3 linked regions of the Homo sapiens genome follow. The protein of the gene in region 1 binds, or shares a complex with, the protein of each later gene. Each region holds a gene or a part of one and is shown in the gene's direction. Other genes may lie near its edges.

What was found. The genes of interacting proteins can lie anywhere in the genome.
Region 2: SNRPE (region 1) and LSM4 share a complex: the UniProt entries of both Homo sapiens proteins name them as parts of the U4/U6-U5 tri-snRNP complex.
Region 3: SNRPE (region 1) and PRPF8 share a complex: the UniProt entries of both Homo sapiens proteins name them as parts of the U4/U6-U5 tri-snRNP complex.

Annotation. Positions count from the first base shown.
Region 1 is NC_000001.11:203,864,597-203,871,620, forward strand, and holds the end of SNRPE (small nuclear ribonucleoprotein E), read left to right. Parts: intron 1-444; coding exon 445-523; intron 524-5,280; coding exon 5,281-5,336; 3' UTR 5,337-6,556; downstream 6,557-7,024. UniProt on the Homo sapiens protein: Plays a role in pre-mRNA splicing as a core component of the spliceosomal U1, U2, U4 and U5 small nuclear ribonucleoproteins (snRNPs), the building blocks of the spliceosome.
Region 2 is NC_000019.10:18,306,075-18,313,098, reverse strand, and holds the end of LSM4 (U6 snRNA-associated Sm-like protein LSm4), read left to right. Parts: intron 1-396; coding exon 397-495; intron 496-3,237; coding exon 3,238-3,421; intron 3,422-5,543; coding exon 5,544-5,635; 3' UTR 5,636-6,863; downstream 6,864-7,024. UniProt on the Homo sapiens protein: Plays a role in pre-mRNA splicing as component of the U4/U6-U5 tri-snRNP complex that is involved in spliceosome assembly, and as component of the precatalytic spliceosome (spliceosome B complex).
Region 3 is NC_000017.11:1,681,866-1,689,140, reverse strand, and holds the start of PRPF8 (pre-mRNA-processing-splicing factor 8), read left to right. Parts: upstream 1-4,273; 5' UTR 4,274-4,361; intron 4,362-4,558; 5' UTR 4,559-4,569; coding exon 4,570-4,669; intron 4,670-5,439; coding exon 5,440-5,608; intron 5,609-6,847; coding exon 6,848-7,012; intron 7,013-7,102; coding exon 7,103-7,275. UniProt on the Homo sapiens protein: Plays a role in pre-mRNA splicing as core component of precatalytic, catalytic and postcatalytic spliceosomal complexes, both of the predominant U2-type spliceosome and the minor U12-type spliceosome.

The DNA of each region.
Region 1 (7,024 bases):
CTGGGCAAGGTGGCTCACGCCTGTAATCCTAGCACTTAGGGAGGCCGAGCATGATGAATCACTTTAGCTCCAGAGTTCGAGACCAGCCTGGGCAACATGATGAAACCCTGTTTCTACCAAAAATACAAAAAGTAGCCAGGCATGGTGGTGCGCCCTGTAGTTCCAGCTACTTGGGGGGAGCTGAGGCAGAAGAATTGCTTGAACCCAGGAGGTCCAGCTGCAGTAAGCCGAGGTTGCACCACTGCACTCTAGCCTGGAAGACAAAGTGAGATCCTTTCTCAAAAAAAAAAAAAAAAAAAAAAAAACTTTGGGTGGAAGGTGGGGTGGGGCTTGAGAAGAGTGAATCTTTGAAGTTAGTTGGAGTTTTTATCTGCATAGGTATACTCATTTAAAATGGTTTGAATGTGATTTTCTTTGAAGATAACAGTTTGTTTATTTTTCTAGGGTTTTGATGAGTATATGAACCTTGTATTAGATGATGCAGAAGAGATTCATTCTAAAACAAAGTCAAGAAAACAACTGGGTAAGGATAGAAGTGGTCTTACAGAATTCTAGAAATATTTTATTCACTTGCAGAATTCAGTGACCTGCAACTCAGTTCATGTTTGAATTTATTTTGCATTTGAGAAGTTATTATTCAGAGTAGTAGTACACTTTTGAAATCATCCTCTACTACTCACTCCTCACCACACTCCATTTTGGCTTCTCCACCCAGAGAGCTCTCACCAAGGGAACCAAAGACTAGTGGTATTAAATCTAATGATCAGTACTAATCCTCATTTTATTAAACTCTCAACAGCATTTGGCACTGTTGGCTGCTCCCTCCTTAAAGCGCTTTGTTCCCGTGTCTGAGTGGCAGGAAAAACCCAAGTAGATTTTTCTGTTTCCTCAGTTGACAATAATTAACACAGAAGACTTCTGTGACCAGATGTATGGGCATATTTCCCCACACACCAAGCAAGCAATCAGTTCGGCAGTGGACATCAGCTCAGAGTCGTCAAGTTCAGTTCAGTTCTAACACTATCTACCTGAGATAGCGTCAGTTCCCAGAGGTTGAGGGCTCAATCCCCAAGATTGCCTTCCATGCCCCTCAGTCCTCCACCAGATGCTAATTGTCAGCTCCAGATTGTTTTACCTGTGCTTCTTACTGACTGGCTATAAACTGGGTCCCATGACCCCTCCGTTGGTTTGATTAATTTGCTAGAGCAGCTCACAGAACTCGGGGAAACACTTGTATTTACTGGTCTGTTATAAAGGATATTACAAAAAGTACAGATGAAGAGATGCGTAGGGCAAGGCATATAGGAAGGGATGCGAAGCTTTTGTGCCCTCTGCAAGCTCACCACTCTGGGAACCTCCACATGTTGAGCTATCAGAACCCCATTGTTTTCAGTTTTTATGTAAGCTTCATTATGTAGGCATGACTGATTAAATTGGCCGTTGGTGATCAGCTTAACCTTCAGCTCCTTTCCTCCTCCCCGGGTGGGAGGGTGGGGCTGAAAGTCCGACATCACTAATGCCTTGGTCCTTTCAGTGAGCAGCTCCCATGCTGAAACGTTGTAGGGGCTGCTGGCCATCAGTCAATCATTAGCATACAAAAAGGCAACATCTTAGAGATTCTAAGGATTTTAGGAGTTGTATGGGATTGAAGACCAAGTAAATATTTTGCAGTATCACACCTTGGCTCTACGATATTATACTTGGGTTTTTATTTTTCACTTCTGGCTATTTTTCAGACTTATATATTCATTCTTGGGACCCAATCACTAAATGAGTTGCTCCAGGCTTGGTTCTAGGCCCTCCTGTCATTCAGTATTGTCTGCCTAGGCACTGGAGTACAGCTTCAGTTACCATCTATAAATACTGACTCCCAAATTTGTTTGTCTGGGCCTATTCACCATTTCTACTTGAATGTTTCAAAGGCTTCTTAAAGTCAGCATATCAGAAAGCAAACTCAATTCCAACTCACACTGTTTAGAGCTATTGTATTATTATTTCCTGCCTTATTGAATGGCACCAGTTTCCAGTTCAGCTTACTAATTGATTTCTCTGCAGCTACCTCCAGTTTGCTTTCCAGGCCTCACTCATCTTTTAAAAACACCAGTCTGAACATATGTCATCCCTTTGCTTGAAATACTGCAATGACTTCCTGTTGCTGTTAGGATAAAAAAAAATCTAATGATTCTGCAAATCTAATGATCTTCATGATCTAGTCTTATCTCCCTCTGCTCATCTCGTATCACTGCCTCACTTTCTGAGCTTTAGCAACACTTGTCTTATTTCAGTTCTTTGAATCTGCAGATTTGCCCAACCATTAATCTTTGTATATGATATTCCTTGTGTCTGTAGAGCTCAGATCAAATATCACTTCTTTTAAGACAGCGGTCCCCTAGGCCAGGTGCAGTGGCTCACACCTGTAATCCCAGCACTTTGGGAGGCCGAGGCGGGTGGATTACGAGGTCAGGAATTCAAGACCATCCTGGCTAACATGGTGAAACCCTGTCTTTCCTGAAAAAAAAAAAAAAAAAAAAAAATTAGCTGGGCATGGTGGCGGGTGCCTGTAGTTCCAGCTACTCGGGAGGCTGAGGCAGGAGAATGGCGCGAACCTGGGAGGCGGAGCTTGCAGTGAGCTGAGATCACGCCACTGCGCTCCAGCCTGGGCGACACAGCGAGACTCTGTCTCAAAAAAAAAAAAAAAAACAGTGGTCCCCAACCATTTTGGCACCAGGGACCGGTTTTGTGGAAGACAATTTTTCTGTGGACTGGGGTGTGGGGGATGGCTTTCGGATGATTCAGGCACATTACATTTATAGTGCACTTTATTATTATTACATTGTAATATATAATGAAATAATTATACAACTCACCATCATGTAGAATCAGTGGGAGCCCTGAGCCTGTTTTCCCACAACTAGACAGTCCCATCTGGGGGTGATGGGAGACAGTGACAGATCATCAGGCATTAGGTTCTCATAAGGAGTGCGCAACCTAGATCCCTCTTTGCCCGGTTCACAATAGGTTTTGCGCTCCTATGAGAATCTAAGGCTTCCACTGATATGACAGGAGGCAGAGCCCAGGCGGGAATACTAGTGATGGGGAGTGGCTGTAAATACAGATGAAGCTCCGCCACCTCGCCCACTGCTCACCTCTTGCTGTGTGACCCAGTTTCTAACAGGGACCAGGACTGGTACTGGTCTGTGGCCCAGGGGTTAGGAAGCCCTGCTCTAAAAAGTTCAAAGTTTAATTTGGTTTTGCTGGGGATGGGGGAAGGCGGGATTATGTGCTCCCTGAGTTTGTAGTAAAACCTTTATTATTGAAATTATTTTATTAGTGTCTCTCCTGTTATCAGATGCTTCACCGTAAGTGTATGAGTCATGCCTTTTTTGATCCCAGTGTGCTCAGTACCTAACTCAATGCCTGGCACATAATAGAAACTAAAAAATATTTGAACAATGAATGGTATTTCTTTCTTTTGTTTTTGGAGACAGAGTCTCTGTCGCTCAGGCTGGAGTGTAATGACGTGATTTTGGCTCACTGCAACCTCTGCCTCCCAGGTTCAAGCAATTCTCCTGCCTTAGACTCCCAAGTAGCTGGGACTACAGGCGTGTACCACCACGCCTGGCTGATTTTTTGTGTTTTAGTAGAGACGGGGTTTCACTGTGTTGCCCAGGCTGGTCTCTAACTTCTGAGCTCAGGCAATCCACCTGCCTCGGCCTCCCAAATGCTGGGATTACATGTGTGAGCCACTAAGCCTGGCAATGAATGGTATTTCTTAACCCAGTTAATGAATGGTCTTAGGATTCACGGTTTCATCAAGACACACTGAATCATTTCTGTTAACATCCCATTCACTTGAGGTTTATTTAGGCATTTTGTCTTTATTTGTTAAATGCTCACTAATACTTTTATCAGTGGTGGGTTTCAGGTGTCTCTCTTTCAGACCCTCAGGATTCTCTTCAACCTGAACTAGATATATGGAAAGTAGATTCTGAGAAGCAGTATGGTGTTTCGCTGGCTGCTTCCTGCTTAGACTATTTTTATGAAAGCCTGGGTTTTTTAGATTTATTGTTATTTATTTATTTATTTTTTTGGAGACGGAGTCTCACTCTGTCTCCCAGGCTTGAGTGCCATGGCACAATCTCAGCTCACTGCAACCTCCACCTCCTGGGTTCAAGCGATTCTCCTGCCTCAGCCTCCCAAGTAACTGGGATTACAGGGCATGCCACCACACCTGGCTAATTTTTTGTATTTTAGTAGAAGACGGGGTGTCACCGTGTTGTCCAGGCTGGTCTCGAATCCTAAGCTCAGGCATTCCACCCACCTTGGCCTCCCAAAGTGCTGGGATTATAGGTGTGAGCCACCATACCCAGCCGGGTTTTTTAGATTTAAAGATGTCTTGCCAGGACGGGCAAGCTTAGCCTTACTGAGGTCATATTATTCATAAATTATTTACCAACTGTTGAATTCCCATGGTAGTATTTATCCTGTAGAATAGAATGTTATTAATACCTGCAGAAGCCTGGGAAAGTAGAACAGTTTAATTACTGTTGGAGTTGATCAACGTGTCTCAAACCGTTCTACCAGTGAACACCAGTGTTCCTGAAGATGTTTATAAATTTCTCAGAAAAGTATTGTCTTAAATAACCTTAGGAAATTTTGGGTAAAACAGGTTTGTTTATTGTAGGATGGAGTCTTTTTTTTTTTTTTTTTTTTTTTTTTTTTTTTTTGGAGATGAATTTTGCTCTTGTTGCCCAGGCTGGAGTGCAATGGTGCCATCTTGGCTCACTGCAACCTCCGCCTCCCGGATTCAAGCAATTCTCCTGCCTCAGCCTCCCAAGTAGCTGGGATTACAGGCACGCGCCACCAGGCTCTGCTAATTTTGTATTTTTAGTAGAGATAGGGTGGAGTCTTTAATATACTAACAGCTTTAAGAATGGAGTTATAATATGCTGTATTTCCCAAACTTGACATACGACTCATTTCCAAACTTTTATTACAAATTCAGCATTGGGAAATGTTGTATGAGGCCTATTGAGTTGACTTAGTCCATAGAAATGATATTTGTCATGAAATGTCATCTACCTATGTTAGTCTCTTGAAAAGATAAATGTATTCTAATGGAGCCAGAAAGCCTTTCACTATATGGACACTTGAAAATGTTCACATATTTTTATAAGAAAGCATTTTCAAAATATTGTTCAAAAACTGGATACAAAATTCTGAGAGTAAAACATCTGAGTGTGTGGCTATTAATAGCTTTTTGTTGTTTTTGTGTTGCAGGTCGGATCATGCTAAAAGGAGATAATATTACTCTGCTACAAAGTGTCTCCAACTAGAAATGATCAATGAAGTGAGAAATTGTTGAGAAGGATACAGTTTGTTTTTAGATGTCCTTTGTCCAATGTGAACATTTATTCATATTGTTTTGATTACCCTCGTGTTACTACAAGATGGCAATAAATACTATGGGATTGTTTGTATTAAAAAATTTACATTGCTTCTTACTATTCAGCAGTAGAAACTTTTTACACAGTAACACCATTCGTTGCTGGTATTTAGTTTTCTGAAGGGTCGCAGTTGCCTTGAGCACTTGGTATTCGCAGAGCTTGGACCTGTAGATTTTGAGGCAGATTAGGAATTCTGCCTGATGGGTAAGCTTCCAGTATTGGGAGGTGGAGAAGGGGAGGGTTCAGAAAAATAAATAAGAGTTATTGCACTAACAAAAGTCTTCATCACTTGTAGTTCTGGATGCTGGAATACCAGAGTTTCTAACCTAAATATGTTGGGTACATTATTTAATGGGGTCAGTATTGCTCAACACTCTCATTGAGTCACTGTGAGGTCTTTGTGAATTTTATCGCTAAGATCAGAATGTGAGAAGTATTTGGATATAGGGAAAGAATGAAGTGCCTTTCAAGTACATTAAAAATCAGTTAAGAGTTTACAGGAAAGAGACTGAGATTGGTAATCTGAAAAGGACCACAAGCATAGCTGGTAGGCAAATTGTTAGGCAGAATAATGGTATGTTGGAGAAATACACCTGTCTCTTATTCTTATCTCTTAAGAATTTTGGTTCTTCCCCCAGTGATTGCTGGTTGAATTCTTATATGGACAGGTTTCCCTTCCCCCAGTATCGCACATGGTTCTAGTTAGAATCCTGTTAGATAGTGAGCATCTGCTGTTAGCTAGACACTGTTGAATCAATACAGTGAAACAGACAGGTAAGCAGGTGGTTTTAATGCCTCATTCTAAGTGCTATTTAAATTGGATCTTGAAAGATGAATAAGGCCTGCCTTAAGTTCTGCTAAAGGCCATGTTGTTATTAAGGACGGGTGAGGAAGGACCAAGAAGTCTGGCTCCTGCTTTTCTACATGCCTGTGAAGGAGACTTTTCATGAAACTGAATAAAAGAAATCCTTTCCGAGATAGAGGAGATTTGTAGGTGAATGCAGAAGTGTATCCAGCTTTGAACCATGCATTCCATCTATATTCCTCCTGTCTGAACTCATGCTCTTTTGATTATGTTTTGAAATAAAGGGCTGCATTAGTTCTTTTAACATTTGAGTTTGAAATTAATTAAACTGATCACAACATGCAAAGAAAACATTGGGCAGCAGAGGGAGTTACAGCCCTGAGACTGCTTCAGCCCTGCTGGTGAGAAGATTGAATTGAAGCTTTTTCAGAGCAGAGCAAAGACCTCCCTGCAGCTTTCTTGGCACCAGAATAGCTGGGAAGAAGGATAAAAGCCCAGAGGAGTATAATCTCTAAGAAAACCTGCTGGCTGCCTTTTCCATTTCCCTGTGTGGCCTTTCTGACCTGGCTGCCCTGTGGAAGCAGAGCTGTGCCTGCTGTGGCTTATTCTGAATGGATCAAGACATGGAAGGTTCTATTTTTGACAGAGCAAATGATGATAGTGAGAATTAAGGTACAGTGAACTCTTACAATTGAGCTCTGTATTTAGAAATCTCTGCTTGCTTTCCTGCTCTACTGGAGCCTGTGGTGTTTGCTTTTTAAGTTGTACTTTT
Region 2 (7,024 bases), on another chromosome or scaffold:
TACAGGCATGCACCACCATGCCCAGCTAATTTTTATGATTTTAGTAGAGATGGGGTTTCACCATGTTGGTCAGGATGGTCTCAATCTTTTGACCTCGTGATCTGCCTGCCTCGGCCTCCCAAAGTGCTGGGATTACAGGCGTGAGCCACCGCGCCCGGCCCAGTATCATTTTTTAATTGCACAAAGGTTGGCGTCATGATAGACTGTCTAACTGCCAGCGAAGTGTCTAGCGGAGGCAGAGCCTGTCGCCTGTAAGGAAGGCCATTTAGGGGTCTGGGAACTGTGGGCTGAGGCCCGGAGGTGGTGGTCCATCTCAGGGCAGAGCTACACCTCCTGAGGGGCCCATGGCGCAGGGCTCCAGGGCTACAGCCAACCTCTAGCCTGTCTCTCTTCTAGTTGGTGGAGCTGAAAAATGGGGAGACGTACAATGGACACCTGGTGAGCTGCGACAACTGGATGAACATTAACCTGCGAGAAGTCATCTGCACGTCCAGGGTGGGTGCTGCACCCACCAACGGGGGTGGGATGCAGGGGGTGCACACTCAGCCTCCTCCCTCCCTCCCTGGGCCTCATGGGAGGAGTCAGTGGGGGAGGCCGCCTAGGACTGCTCGTCCTTCCAGGGGTCAGTCAGGAGGGACAGGGCAGGGTGAGCTAGGCCACCAAGTCTCCCAGTGTGCCCTGGACTTTGACCCTGTGGGAGACTTTCCTGCTGTGTGTCTGTTGGTGCCACCCCTGACCTGGAAGGACCTAGGACTGGGGACTCCCTGTGGCTCAGGCTGGGGCAGCCCCCTCCAGGGGAGGCCCAAGACTCCCGGACTCTGCTGCCTTTAGTCCAGCCTGGATGTTGCCTGCACTCTGCGGGCCATGGTAGTGTGGCCCTGGGATGTCCGGGATGCCCAGGTCACGGTGGGCAGGAGCAGCGCCAGGGCCCGGTGGGTCAGGAGCCACCAGCCAGAGCCCAAGACCGGAAGTGCCTGGCTAGGAGTGCTGCTGGGTCGGCCGGGGCTGGAAGATGGTTCCCCTGGTGTCACGGGCCTTCCCTGCCCCTGGGATGACCCACAGAGCACTGAGGAGGAGGCCAGGGATGGTGCTGAAGGCAGCGGCTCCCTTGGACTCCTCCCACCAACCTTCCCTGACCCCATCTGTCTTGTCTCCCTGTGGGTGACAGCCCCCCATGGTATAGGGAGGAAACTGCTGGGGAGCTTGGAGTGCCTGCCTGGGGTCACCTTGACAGGACAACAGGGCTCGAGGGGGGAGGCGCTTCTTCCTGAAGTGGCCGTATCTTGCCCTGACCGCCACCCCCACCCGGGACTGGGCCTCTCATCAGCACAGGGCTGGGCGGGGTGGGGACAGGTGGTGAGGCTGCTGTGCAGCAGCGCTAGAAGCTCTAGAAACTGCTTGCTGGGTTTCGTGCCATAGCCTGTCGGAGGGCGTCTGGGTGGGTCCAGTCTGGCTGTGTCGGATGGTGCCTTGGTGCAGAACCGCGTGCCTCCCATCTGCGGCCAGCGGGGCTCTGTCCACTTCCGGTATTGGAATCACCAGGCGTGTTGCGTGCGTGAGCATGTGCGGTCTTGTGGACACCTCCAGGTCCTAGACATGAGAAGCCTGTTGATTCAGAGGCTGCGTGGTCTCCAGGGGTTGGTTTGGCCTCTGCCTCCAGCTTCGAGTGGACGGATGGCTTTCCCTGAGCAGCCTGCCTCTGTGGCCAGGCGGTGATGCTGCCGTCACATGTGGCTGGGAGGAGAGGCGATGGGAACTCACATCGTCCCCATCTAAGTGGGGCCCTCCCTCCCTCAGAGGCAGGCCGCAGGATGCAGAGACCCCGGGCTGAGAGACCTCTGGAGCGCTGTGGGCAGGAGGCAGGGGCCTCCCTGCAGTGAGCTCAGGCCCTGCCCAGGTTCCTGCACGAGGAAGCCTCTGGGCCCTGCCTGGGAGAGCTGGGCGCCAAGTCACCTGCCCAGGCCCTGAGTCCCCACAGAACCATGGTGTGTCCGCCCCACGAGCCCTCGAGGGGTTCCTGGGAGAGTGAGCACCCAAAGGGGCTGTTCCTCCCCGCCCAGCGCTAGGCCAGGCCACACCTACCCAGGTGTGGAGGAGAGTGTCTGACAGGAGGACTTGGGGATTCGGGCAGGTAAGGCCTTTTGGGGTCAAAGTTAGCCAGATGAGAAGTGGGAAAACCACGTGCAAAGTTCTGGGGGCAAGCCCATGGCGTGTGTTCCGGAAACAGAAAGTTCCATCTGGAGGGAGTGTCGTCGGGCTGGGAGAGGACCGCCAGGGCGGGGCAGGATCTCGGGCCCTAGAGAGCCCTGCTGAGGTTCTTAGACCTTGCCCCCAGGCTGGAGGGGGCCCTGGGTGGGTTCCAAGCTGGAACATACTGTGATCTGACTTTAAAGGGCATCGGGGGCAAAGGCCATCCAGGCGTCGTGCGTGGGTCTGTCCAGGAACCTGGGCGGTGGGGCGGGGCTGGGAAACTGATATGGTAGGAATGGCCCTGGCCCCTGCTAATCCCTCGATCTGTCCCAGTGGGGGCCTCGGAGGCATTGCAGCATGAGTCTGTGTCTTTGCAAGGCCCCCATTTCTCCAGTCTTGGTTAGCTCTCCTAAAACTGGCATCGCTGGGAGCCGCCCTTGAGCCACCCTGGCAGGACCCAAGTCCCCCCATTTCCCGCCCCTCTTCACCCACCACACTAGGCCTGTAGCTTGCTCGCATGTCCCTGCACCCAGCGCAGGCCCTGTCAGGAGATACTTAGATGAATGAATGAGTCAGGGCATGTAGAGAGGCTTCCAGAAGTGAGGTGGGGCTGGGGCAGGAGGAGGAGTAGCTGGGCTTCGGCTGTGTCTGGTGCACAGGGAGGCCCCCACCCGCTCTGGGCTTTGGGCTGCAGGTGAAGAACCCCAACCAGAGAGAGCCCCATCCCAGGCTGGAGGGAGCCCCAGTCAGCCACTCCTGAGCCAGGCCCACGGGCAGAGGATAGGAGCCAGTCTTCCTTGTGAGTGCACAATGGGGGCTGCGCCTACCACACCCACCCTTGCTCCTGGGTGAAGGATTGCCTGGGGTCAGGACAGATCCTGCCTGCAGGGTGGACCCTTTGCCACGTATGTCCCGGGACTGATACTGTGCAGCTTGCAGGGGTGGTACGGGGTGCAGGCTGGGCAGGATCTGCAGGGCCTCCCGCGCTCCCAGGGCTGGGCCAGACGGCCCGGTGGTAAGTTAATAACCTGCTCCCCTTCTCCGCAGGACGGGGACAAGTTCTGGCGGATGCCCGAGTGCTACATCCGCGGCAGCACCATCAAGTACCTGCGCATCCCCGACGAGATCATCGACATGGTCAAGGAGGAGGTGGTGGCCAAGGGCCGCGGCCGCGGAGGCCTGCAGCAGCAGAAGCAGCAGAAAGGCCGCGGCATGGGCGGCGCTGGCCGAGGTGGGTCTCCCCTCTCCAGTGGACGTACCTGGGGCGGGAAGACAGCCACACGTGGCATCCCTCCTTCTTGGGGTTGCCCTTGCAGCGCTGCCTCGGAGCCTCCCAACCCTCCCGGGCCCCCCTCCTGGTCCTTGGCCATGAGCCGAGGCCCAGGCAGAGGAGCCCCGAGACCTGGGACTCAGCCCTCCTCTCACTGCGCCTCCTGGCGGTCCTCAGGGCACATCAAGTCACCTCCCCAAGCCTCAGTTTCCCCTCTGAGAGGGTATGGTGGTGCCCATCTGTCCAGGCCGCTGGCAACTCCACTTGGAACCTGGCGTGGCTCTATCCAGAGCCAAGGTCGCCCGCCCCCACCGGAGATGATGAATTGGCATAAAATTCCATTTGTTAGGCCCAGGGGCCATCTGTAGCCCCTGCCCTTCCTCACCTCTCTGTCCCCAGCTCTGTGTTCTCGGGGGGACCTGGGCTTTGCTTCTGCCATCCATGGGCACTGCCTGTGTGCTGGGCTCAGGTGCCAGCCTGGGGGCTTGCAGCACGGCATGGCTGCCCCCGGAAGGCCCCAGGCGCCAATTCTGTGCAGGCTCACGAGGTGGTCAGGAGTGAGCCCGAGGGAGGGGCAGGGATAGTACTCCAGGCAGGGAGCTTTGGGGATCTCAGGGTGGGTGGGGCCTCTGGGGTCCCCGGCCTGGCTCCTTCCCAGTAGTTGGGGTCAAGGTTGTTGAGAGAGTGGGTCGGGTCCTACCTAGGGAAGTGGGGGGTTTTCTCTGGCTGCTCTGCAGGAAGCCACTGGGCCATGGAGTGCAGATAGCAGCCTCGCAGTAACCCCCACCAGGCTGTGCACCCTAGCACAGCTGGTCCTGCCTGGTGAGAGGGGAGGTTGGTGGCCCAGGCCAGCGTTGGCCTCTGGCCTCTGTCCCCACAGGGCCTGGTGGCCCCTGGCTGGTGAGAGCCCTGACCTCTTAGATCCTCTGAATCTGGACCCCTGACCCCACCTTCACGGGGTTGAGGTCTGCAGAGTAGACCGTGATTCCAGTTCCTGTTGGGGTCAGTCCTCCTGTCCCCAGACCTCCCTGGCCCACGACTGAGCCTCCCAGCGGGCTCTGTGGAGGGCCTGAGCTATGCTGCCTGCAGCGCTGGCCTCTGGCCCCTGGCACCCAGCACATGGGCCACAGGGCCAGCTCCTCTTGCTGGCCTTGGCTCTCCTGCTGTTTGAAGCTCCAGCTTTGATTTCCTCAAGCGTTCGTCCAGCTAGAAAGTTCTCTGAAACGGCTCCCTAAACGGGGCTTACAGAGCTGGGGTCCCCAAGGGAGACAGAGAGGGAGGGATCAATGTTGGGTCCCGGCCTGACCAACCTGCTGCGTCCAGGCCTGGCCTGTGGTGAGGGTGGCGTGAAGGGGCGCCAGGCACACAGAGGGTGTGGGGACAGGCGTGCCCTGCGTGCAGCCTGCTCAGGATTACTGGAGGTGCCGCTGTAGCGTCCACTCAGTCCCTGGGGCCCTCATCTCCCGGGAACCCCCTGTCACCTCCCCAGTGGCCACATGCTCCCACCTCAGGGGCTTCATGGAAAATGTCATTTGTCCTCATGGTCTATCTCTGGCCTCAGGCCTGCTGGGGAGTCCCCTCCCCTTCCCCATCCCTGGGGCTGGATACACAGAAATCCCTCTTTCTGTTTTCCTCCTGGCAGGTAGATGAGGGGCTGTGGGTGGTTGTGGCGCATAGGAGGCCCCCCCCCCGCCAGGGAGCCCCCAGCCTGGCCTACTGCCCTGGTCTCTGCTCCACGCCTCTCCTACCTCCTCCTCCTCCTCCAGGAAACCCTTCTGGCTTTGTCCTTTAGGAAGCCTGCCCCAACCCCCAATGTGACTTAGTGTCCTCTGTCGCCTAGTCCCCCCCCCCCGCATCCCTGGGGGCTGGGTCTAGTCCCATAATGAGGATGCCCTGGAGTTCCTGCCTTCCTCAGATGCTCTGCCCCACGGAGGAGATCCAAGCACCCTCAGTCACCACCTCACACATGAGGAAGCTGAGGCTGGAGACTTAGGTGACCTGGCCTAGAGTTTCAGGGCGCCGGGATCCTGTCGAAGGTCCCACCCACCTGGCTCTGCTGCAGCGCCCTCTCTCTGTCCTCTAGGTGTGTTTGGTGGCCGGGGCCGAGGTGGGATCCCGGGCACAGGCAGAGGCCAGCCAGAGAAGAAGCCTGGCAGACAGGCGGGCAAACAGTGAGCGCCCACCCAGACCGGCTGCTGCGCCCCCTCCTGCCAGGGTGGCGATTCCGCTCCACAGTCTCGGACGGATCTGCTCAGAAAGGAAGAGGCAGGCGCCAGGGGGAACCCCCTTCGTGTTTTGTGACCCTCCCTTTTAGGTGAAGCCCCTTTTTCTTGCTAAAACCGGCAATTCTCCGGTTAGAAATGTTACTTGGTGTTTTTTGGTTTTGTGAAACGGCCGTCCCAAAACTGGCTGGATTCCTAGAAGAGTCTGTGTTGAAGGCATCTTTCAAGCCCTCGCTCTGGTTCTCAGGGCAGCATTTTCCAGGCGGGTTTGTTTTGCATTTCTTGGAGCCTCTCCGAGCAGCAACCAGACGGGAGATTTTTATTTTAAGCTGTTCATGCTGGGACTGACAGCCTGCAGGGTTTCCTTGGGCGCGGCCCCAAAATTGCCTTCAAAACAAACCCGGGACGGTTGAAAGCCTTCGAACCGTGCAGGGGATGCCTCGGGCCCTGGCCCTTCGCTTCCTCTCTTGTGTTATGGAAATAAAAACAAATAAAACTACACACTGCACATCCACTGTTCCTTTTGAGCTTCTGGGTGCACCTAGCGGGTCTCCTGCCCTCTGTCCATCGCTGGACTCTCAGGAAATCCCCGTTCCCGTAAGGGAAGCTTCCTTTTGAGAGTTCTCACCAGGTGTCAGCGGCACAGTGAGGCACTGATGTCCTTTTACAAAAGGCAAGACCAGCATCTGGACAGTGGGGGCTCTTGAGAGTCCCCGGCGCCCCCCACACCAGGTTGTCCTATAACCCTCTCCCCTCTGTGGAGACGTTAATGCCAAGGGGTGTGTGGGGAGGGAAGTCCCAGGCAGGGGCCACGCATGGTCCCCATCACCCCCTCCTGGGTGGCCTGGACTCCATCATCTATCCTCATCTGTCCACACTGGCGTTCACACAGAGAAGACAGGACAGGAATCCCCTCGGAAGATGCTCATGGAAGATTCTCACGAGGCTCCTGCCCCCTTTCTGAGCCAGGCCGGGTTTGCCACTCCTCGGGCGCGCACCTGAGACACTGAGTCAGCGCTTTCGAGAAAGGCTCCGGGTAGCATCTGTGGACCGTGAAGAAACCAGAGGGAAGCCCTGAGCCAGGCAGCGGCCCGTCCCCCTGCATAGCCTTCTCTTCAGGGTCCTCGTTCGGAGACCTATTTTGAGAGGTGATTGGAATAAAAGGTCCCGTCCGTGAGGAACTCTTTTTCTTGAGTCTTCAGAGTTACTTGCCATCGTATAGATTTTGCATTTACAATGTCCTCGCCTGGGATGTTCTCCTTGTGTGTGGGGTGGGGGACAGGGATGGATATCTGCAGTCGCCTGAATCCTCTCCGCCACAGCGGCACTTGATTGATGGTTA
Region 3 (7,275 bases), on another chromosome or scaffold:
GGGAAGTGAGGAGCCCCTCTGCCCGGCCACCACCCCGTCTGGGAGGTGTGCCCAACAGCTCATTGAGAACGGGCCAGGATGACAATGGCGGCTTTGTGGAATAGAAAGGCAGGAAAGGTGGGGAAAAGATTGAGAAATCGGATGGTTGCCCTGTCTGTGTAGAAGGAGGTAGACATGGGAGACTTTTCATTTTGTTCTGTACTAAGAAAAATTCTTCTGCCTTGGGATCCTGTTGATCTGTGACCTTACCTCCAACCCTGTGCTCTCTGAAACGTGTGCTGTGTCCACTCAGGGTTGAATGGATTAAGGGCGGTGCAAGATGTGCTTTGTTAAACAGATGCTTGAAGGCAGCATGCTCGTTAAGAGTCATCACCACTCCCTAATCTCAGGTACCCAGGGACACAGACGCTGCGGAAGGCCGCAGGGTCCTCTGCCTAGGAAAACCAGAGACCTTTGTTCACTTGTTTATCTGCTGACCTTCCCTCCACTGTTGTCCTATGACCCTGCCAAGTCCCCCTCTGTGAGAAACACCCAAGAATTATCAATAAAAAATAAATAAATAAATAAATAAATAAATAAAAAAGATTTCTTTGGGGGGTGCTGGGAATGTTCTGGAACTCAATAGTGGTAACTGCACAAGTCTGTAAATATACTAATTTTGAATCATTAAAACTAAAATTCATTAACAATCATTGAATTATACACATGAAAACAAGCGAACTTTATGGATTGCGATTTTTTTTTTTTTTTTTTTGAGGCAGAGTTTCGCTCTTGTTGCCCAGGCTGGAGTGCAATGGCGCGATCTCAGCTCACTGCAACCTCTGCCTCCAGATGCAAGCGATTCTTACATCTCAGCCTCCCAAGTAGCTGGGATTACAGGCATGCACCACCATGCCCCGCCAATTTTTGTATTTTTAGTAGAGACAGAGTTTCACCATGTTGCTTCGTCTGGTCTCGAACTCCTGACCTCAGGTGATCCGCCCGCCTCGACTTCCCAATGTGCTGGGATTACAGGCATGAGCCAGCATGGTGGCCATGGAGTGCAACTTTTATCTCAATAATGCTGTTTTGAAAATAGTACAGAGAGTTCTTGTGTACCCTTCACGTAGCTTGAGAACTTTTTATTTTATTTTATTTTTGAGCGAGAGTCTCACTCGGTCACCCAAGCTGGAGTGCAATAGCATGATCTCAGCTCACTACAACCTCCACCTCCGGGTGCAAGCGATTCTTATGCCTCAGCCTCCCAAGTAACTAGGATTACAGGCATGTGCCACCATGCCCCACTAATTTTTGTATTTTAGTAGAGACAGGTTTTCACCATGTTGGCTAGGCTGGTCTCGAATTCCTGACCTCAAATGATCCACCTGCCTCAGCCTCCCAAAGTGCTGGGATTACAGGCGTGAGCCACCACACCTGCCCCCTGCCCACCCCCCAGAACTTGTTTTTTTTTTTTTTTTTGGAGACGGAGTCTTGCTCTGTCACCCAGGCTGGAGTGCAGTGGCCCGATCTTGGCTTACTGCAACCTCTGCCTACCGGGTTCACACCATTCTCCTGCCTCAGCCTCCCGAGTAGCTGGGACTACAGGCGCCTGCCACCATGCCCGGCTAATTTTTTTGTATTTTTAGTAGAGATGGGGTTTCACCGTGTTAGCCAGGATGGTCTCGATCTCCTGACCTCGTGATCCACCCTCCTCAGCCTCCCAAAGTGCTGGGATTACAGGCGTGAACCACCGCGCCCGGCCACCCCCCAGAACTTCTTATACAACCATAGAGCGACAATCAAACCAGGAAATTGACATTGGTACAATACTCTTTTTTTCTTTTTTGAGACGGAGTCTTGCTCTTTTGCCCAGGCTGGAGTGCAGTGACTATCTCAGCTCACTACAACCTCTACCTCCTGGGTTCAAGCGATTCTCCTTCCTTAGCCTCTCAAGTAGCTCGAAGCACAGGTGCGTGCCACCATGCCCGGCTAATTTTTTTGTATTTTTAGTAGAGACAGGGTTTCACCGTGTTAGCCAGGATGGTCTCGATCTCCTGACCTTGTGATCCGCCAGCCTCGGCCTCCCAAAGTGCTGGGATTACAGGCGTGAACCACCGCGCCCGGCCACAATACTCTTAATGAAACTACAGACCATAGTAGGATTTCACCAGGGCTTAGAGCAATGTCTGGCACGTAGTGAACCTTACACAGGTGAAAGGACTTCACTACCATGACGATGATGATGATGAAGATGATAATGATGATGTTGGACTTTCTAGCACAGCCAGATTGATATGGTGCCTATTTTCAGAGCATGCCATGTTAGTTTCTATATCTAAACCTTTTTTGGCCTGGCACGGTGGCTCACGCCTGAAATCCCAGCAATTTGCGAGGCTGAGGTAGGCAGATTACTTGAGCTCAGTAGTTCGAGACCAGCCTGACAAACATGGAGAAACGCCATCTCTACGAAAAATACAAAATTAGCCGGGTGTGGTGGCACATGCCTGTAACCCCAGCTACTCAGGAGGCTGAGGCAGGAGAATCGCTTGAATCCTGGAGGCAGAGGTTGCAGTGAGCCGAGATTGTGACACTGCACTCCAGCCTGGCAACAGAGTGAGACTCTGCCTCAAAAAACAAAAAACAAACCAAAACCCCCACTTTTTTTCTATGAAACCAGCCTCGCTCTGTCACCCAGGCTGGAGTGCAGTGGTGCCATCATGATCCTCCCACCTCAGCCTCCCGAGTAGCTGGGACTACAGGCATGTACCACTATGCCTGGTTAATATTTTTATTATTTGTAGAGATGAGGGTCTCAGTATGTTGCCCAGGCTAGTCTTAAACTCATGAGTTTAACCAATCCTCTCGCCGCTGCCTCCCAACGTGCTAGGATTACAGGTATGAGTCACGGTGCCCGGCTTCTTTCTTAACTCTTTCTAGTAGTTCTACCACTTGGGATTACCTTTTTCCTTCCTCTCCATTTACCTTTATGAAATCCTCACATCCATCCATCTCCATCAAATCTTTAACAATTCTCCTCTGTCTTTTTTGACTGTAGGGACCTTTAGAACACCCAGCATTAAAAAATAGATTTCAGGCCGGGCATGGGGGCTCACGCCTGTAATCCCAGCACTTTGGGAGGGCCGAGGCAGGAGGATTTCGTAAGGTCAGGAGTTTGAGACCAGCCTGGCCAACATAGTGAAACCCTGTCTCTACTAAAAATCCAAAACTTAGCCGGCAGTAGTGGCGCGTGCCTGTAATCCAGCTACTCTGGAGACTGAGGCAGGAGAATTGCTTGATCCTGGGAGGTGGAGGTTGTGATGAATTGAGATCGCGCCATTGCACTCCAGTCTGGGCAACAGAGTGAGACCCTGTCTCAAAAAAACAAAAGGAATATTTTTTAAATTTTTACCGTTCTGAAAGCACATTGACATCCTTTGAATTTTTTTCTAATTATTTCACTTTGATTTGTAAATTCTCAACTAGATTCAGGGGCTGTATGGGTTACAATTCCTCTGCACCCTCCACAGAATTTCAGACTTTTTTTTTTCCCCCGAGACAGAGTCTCGCTCTGTCACCCAGGCTGGAGTGCAGTGGCGCGATCTTGGCTCACTGCAACCTCCCCCTCCCGGGTCAAGCGATTCTCCTGCCTCAGCCTCCCGAGTAGCTGGGACTACAGGCGCCCGCCACCACGCCCGGCTAATGTTTGTATTTTTAGTAGAGACGGGGTTTCACCATGTTGGCCAGGCTGGCCTCGAACTTCTGGCTTTAAGTGATCCGCCTGCCTCGGCCTCCCAAAGTGCTGCGATTCCAGGCGTGAGCCACCGCGCCCGGCCAAGGTCTTAATTCTTGCCTGCCTTTCTGCTCCCCTGTGAACTCTACTGGTTGTCTTTTTTCCTGCTTTATCCCTCGTCCTCGGTAGACAGTGATGGTTAAATGAATGAATGCATGAACAAATGACTGTCCAGGAGCTAGTACTGCATTGCATGTACACATTGATGACAACAGACATCGTACAATGCGCAATCTTGGCAAATTTATTCAAACCCTTTAGACTTCGCTCTCTCACAGTGCGACGCCGGGAGCCCATCACACGCTGAGGTCTGTCAGAGGCCCCAGAAACAGCCTCGGAAATGGAGGAGGCGGGGCTTCACCCCGACCACACCCCCTTGCGTTCAAAGCCTTTCCGCCTATGGGCCCGCCTCCTCGGCGCAGTGTGCAACTCTAATTGGTCGTCTCACTAATCCATCTGAGCACCTCGGCGCCGACTGGATCAACTGCTGAACTCGGGTTGCGCACTTCCCGGCGCTGGGAACGCGGAGCGGACGCAGTCTGGCCGCCATTGCGCTGCGGGGAAAGCGGCCTCTTGTGTGAGGGCCTGTGGGGTGCGTGGCAGGCGTTTAAGGCCGGGCTGCGGGAGGCGTGGTCGGGTCGGGCCGAGTGACCGAAGGGGTTAGGCCGGGCGGGGCTGGATGCACTGTGTGGCGGGACTGCAGGCCGGGGTCCCCGGACGCCTTTCTGCTGCGCTTCTTGTGGGCCCGGGCCTGTGGTTAGTGAATTTTTCTATCCCGCCGCTCCCCAGATTCTCCGGATATGGCCGGAGTGTTTCCTTATCGAGGGCCGGGTAACCCGGTGCCTGGCCCTCTAGCCCCGCTACCGGACTACATGTCGGAGGAGAAGCTGCAGGAGAAAGGTGAGGCGAGAGTGTGGAGCGGCGCGCGGGCCGGAGGCGGGGCGGGTGTGCGCGCGCGCAGGCGGGTGGGGACCCTCCCCGTTTGGGCAGCTCCTGAGGTGTCAGCTCCCTTGTTATTTCCAGTTAATTTTTCATCAAGTCATTTTAAGCGCGTATTATTTGCAAGCGCTGATCCAGCGGGGGTACAGTAGTGACGGAGACAAAATTCCTGTCCTTACGGGGTTTAAATTACAGCGGGAGAGACAGAGAATAACAAAACCTTGAAGCTCTGTAATAAAAATGTCAGGCCGGGCGCGGTGGCTCACGGTTGTAATCCCAGCACTTTGGGAGGCCCAGGCGGGCGGATCACCTGAGGTCAGGAGTTCGAGACCAGCCTGGCCAACACAGTGAAACCTCGTCTCTACGAAAAATACAAAAATGAGTCGTGTGTGGTGGCGCGTGTCTATAATCCCAGCTACTGGGGAGGCTGAGGCAGGAGAATGGCTTGAACCCAGGAGGCGGAGGTTGCAGTGAGCCGACATCGCACCATTGCACTCCAGCCTGGGAGACAGAGTGAAACAACCTCTCAAAAAAAAAAAAAAAAGTCAGATAGTGATCAATGTGATGAAAGGAAAAACAGAGTAAAATGGTAAGGGAATTGGCAAGGGGTGCTTCTTCCTGCTGGTGCCTGCTTCTCCCTCACACTCACTGACAGGAGCTTACCCTAGGGCAAGAGGTGAAGAGGATTAGGGGGAGGGTGTGCAGGCCTTTAAACTGAGGTGCCTTTCCAGCTCGAAAATGGCAGCAATTGCAGGCCAAGCGCTATGCAGAAAAGCGGAAGTTTGGGTTTGTGGATGCCCAGAAGGAAGACATGCCCCCAGAACATGTCAGGAAGATCATTCGAGACCATGGAGACATGACCAACAGGAAGTTCCGCCATGACAAAAGGGTTTACTTGGGGTAAGGAACATCCTGAAATAATTTCATTTGGAATTTGGCCCTTTTCCCTTCTCCCTGTCCCACAGTCTTGGATTGATGCTTTGACAGCTCATCTTGGTGGATATAAGAGAAAGGAGAAAACCAGTAGGAGTCTCTGATAATTTCTACATCTTCCACTTTTGCAGTCTGTTTCCCCTCTCTTCCCGATCTGGGACTGGTGCTTTAATTTGTCCTGTTGATGATATTATAAGATGTCCCTGGCCAGGCGCGGTGGCTCATGCCTGTAATCCCAGCACTTTGGGAGGCCGAGGCGGGTGGATCATGAGGTCAGGAGATCGAGACCATCCTGGCTAACACGGTGAAACCCCGTCTCTACTAAAAATACACAAAATTAGCTGGGCGTGGTGGCAGGTGTCTGTAGTCCCAGCTACTTGGGAGGCTGAGGCAGGAGAATGGCGTGAACCTGGGAGGCGGAACTTGTAGTGAGCCGAGATCACACCACTGCACTCTGGCCTGGGCGAAAGTACGAGACTCCGTCTCAAAAAAAAAAAAAAAATGAAAAATAAGATGTCCCTATGGTTGAGCTGGTTGAAGTCCAGAGTGGGATACTGTGCATAGTGGCAGCCTGTCGCTCCTCAGGGACCTGAATTCTGTGTTTGGGGTATTTAATTTCAGAGGTTTCCCTACTCCTGTTTTTTCTGTGGCTCTAAACTGGGCTAGTACAGGTACAGATGTCTTAGCAGATTCCTGTTCTATTTGGACACAAAAATGTTTGCCATGTAATGAACTGGAAGTTTTGTTTATTTCAAAAAATACTTAGAGAACTGTGCTGGCTGCTGGGGATATAGTAGCGAGCAGAGGGTAACAATCTCCGCCTTTCTGCAGTGTGCGGTCTAGTGGCCTGACAGACATGAGACAACTGGTGATAGTGAAGTATGGTGAATACTTTATTATGATTTATGGGAAGATGCGGAGGGAATAGGATGTGAGAGAGCCGCAAAGCTGTCTCCAGAGGGATAGCCGTTGATTTAGAGGAGCTGATACCAGCATTGTGGGATTATGACGTTTAAGAAGAGTGGTGCAAGGTGAAGTTGGAGAGGGAGAGGCAGGGTTTCTGGTTAGGAAGGGCCTGTGGGCTAAGTTTGGGAGTTTGGATTGTAAGGTAGGACTGTGGAACATGAACATGTGGCTTCTCTGCATGGGACAGGTAGCAGAACACCTCGTCATTTCTGATAGCCTTCTCTTTTTCTAATGTGCCAGTGCCCTAAAGTACATGCCCCACGCAGTCCTCAAACTCCTGGAGAACATGCCTATGCCTTGGGAGCAGATTCGGGATGTGCCTGTGCTGTACCACATCACTGGAGCCATTTCCTTCGTCAATGAGATTCCCTGGGTCATTGAACCTGTCTACATCTCCCAGTGGGGGTGAGAAAGGCTGAAATATGGTGGGTGGTGGTGGTGGTGGTGGTTGGGAGGCAGTGGGTAGAAATGGTTGTGTGATGTCTTGCCTTCCAGGTCAATGTGGATTATGATGCGCCGAGAAAAAAGAGATAGGAGGCATTTCAAGAGGATGCGTTTTCCCCCTTTTGATGATGAGGAGCCGCCCTTGGACTATGCTGACAACATCCTAGATGTTGAGCCACTGGAGGCCATTCAGCTAGAGCTGGACCCTGAGGAGGACGCCCCTG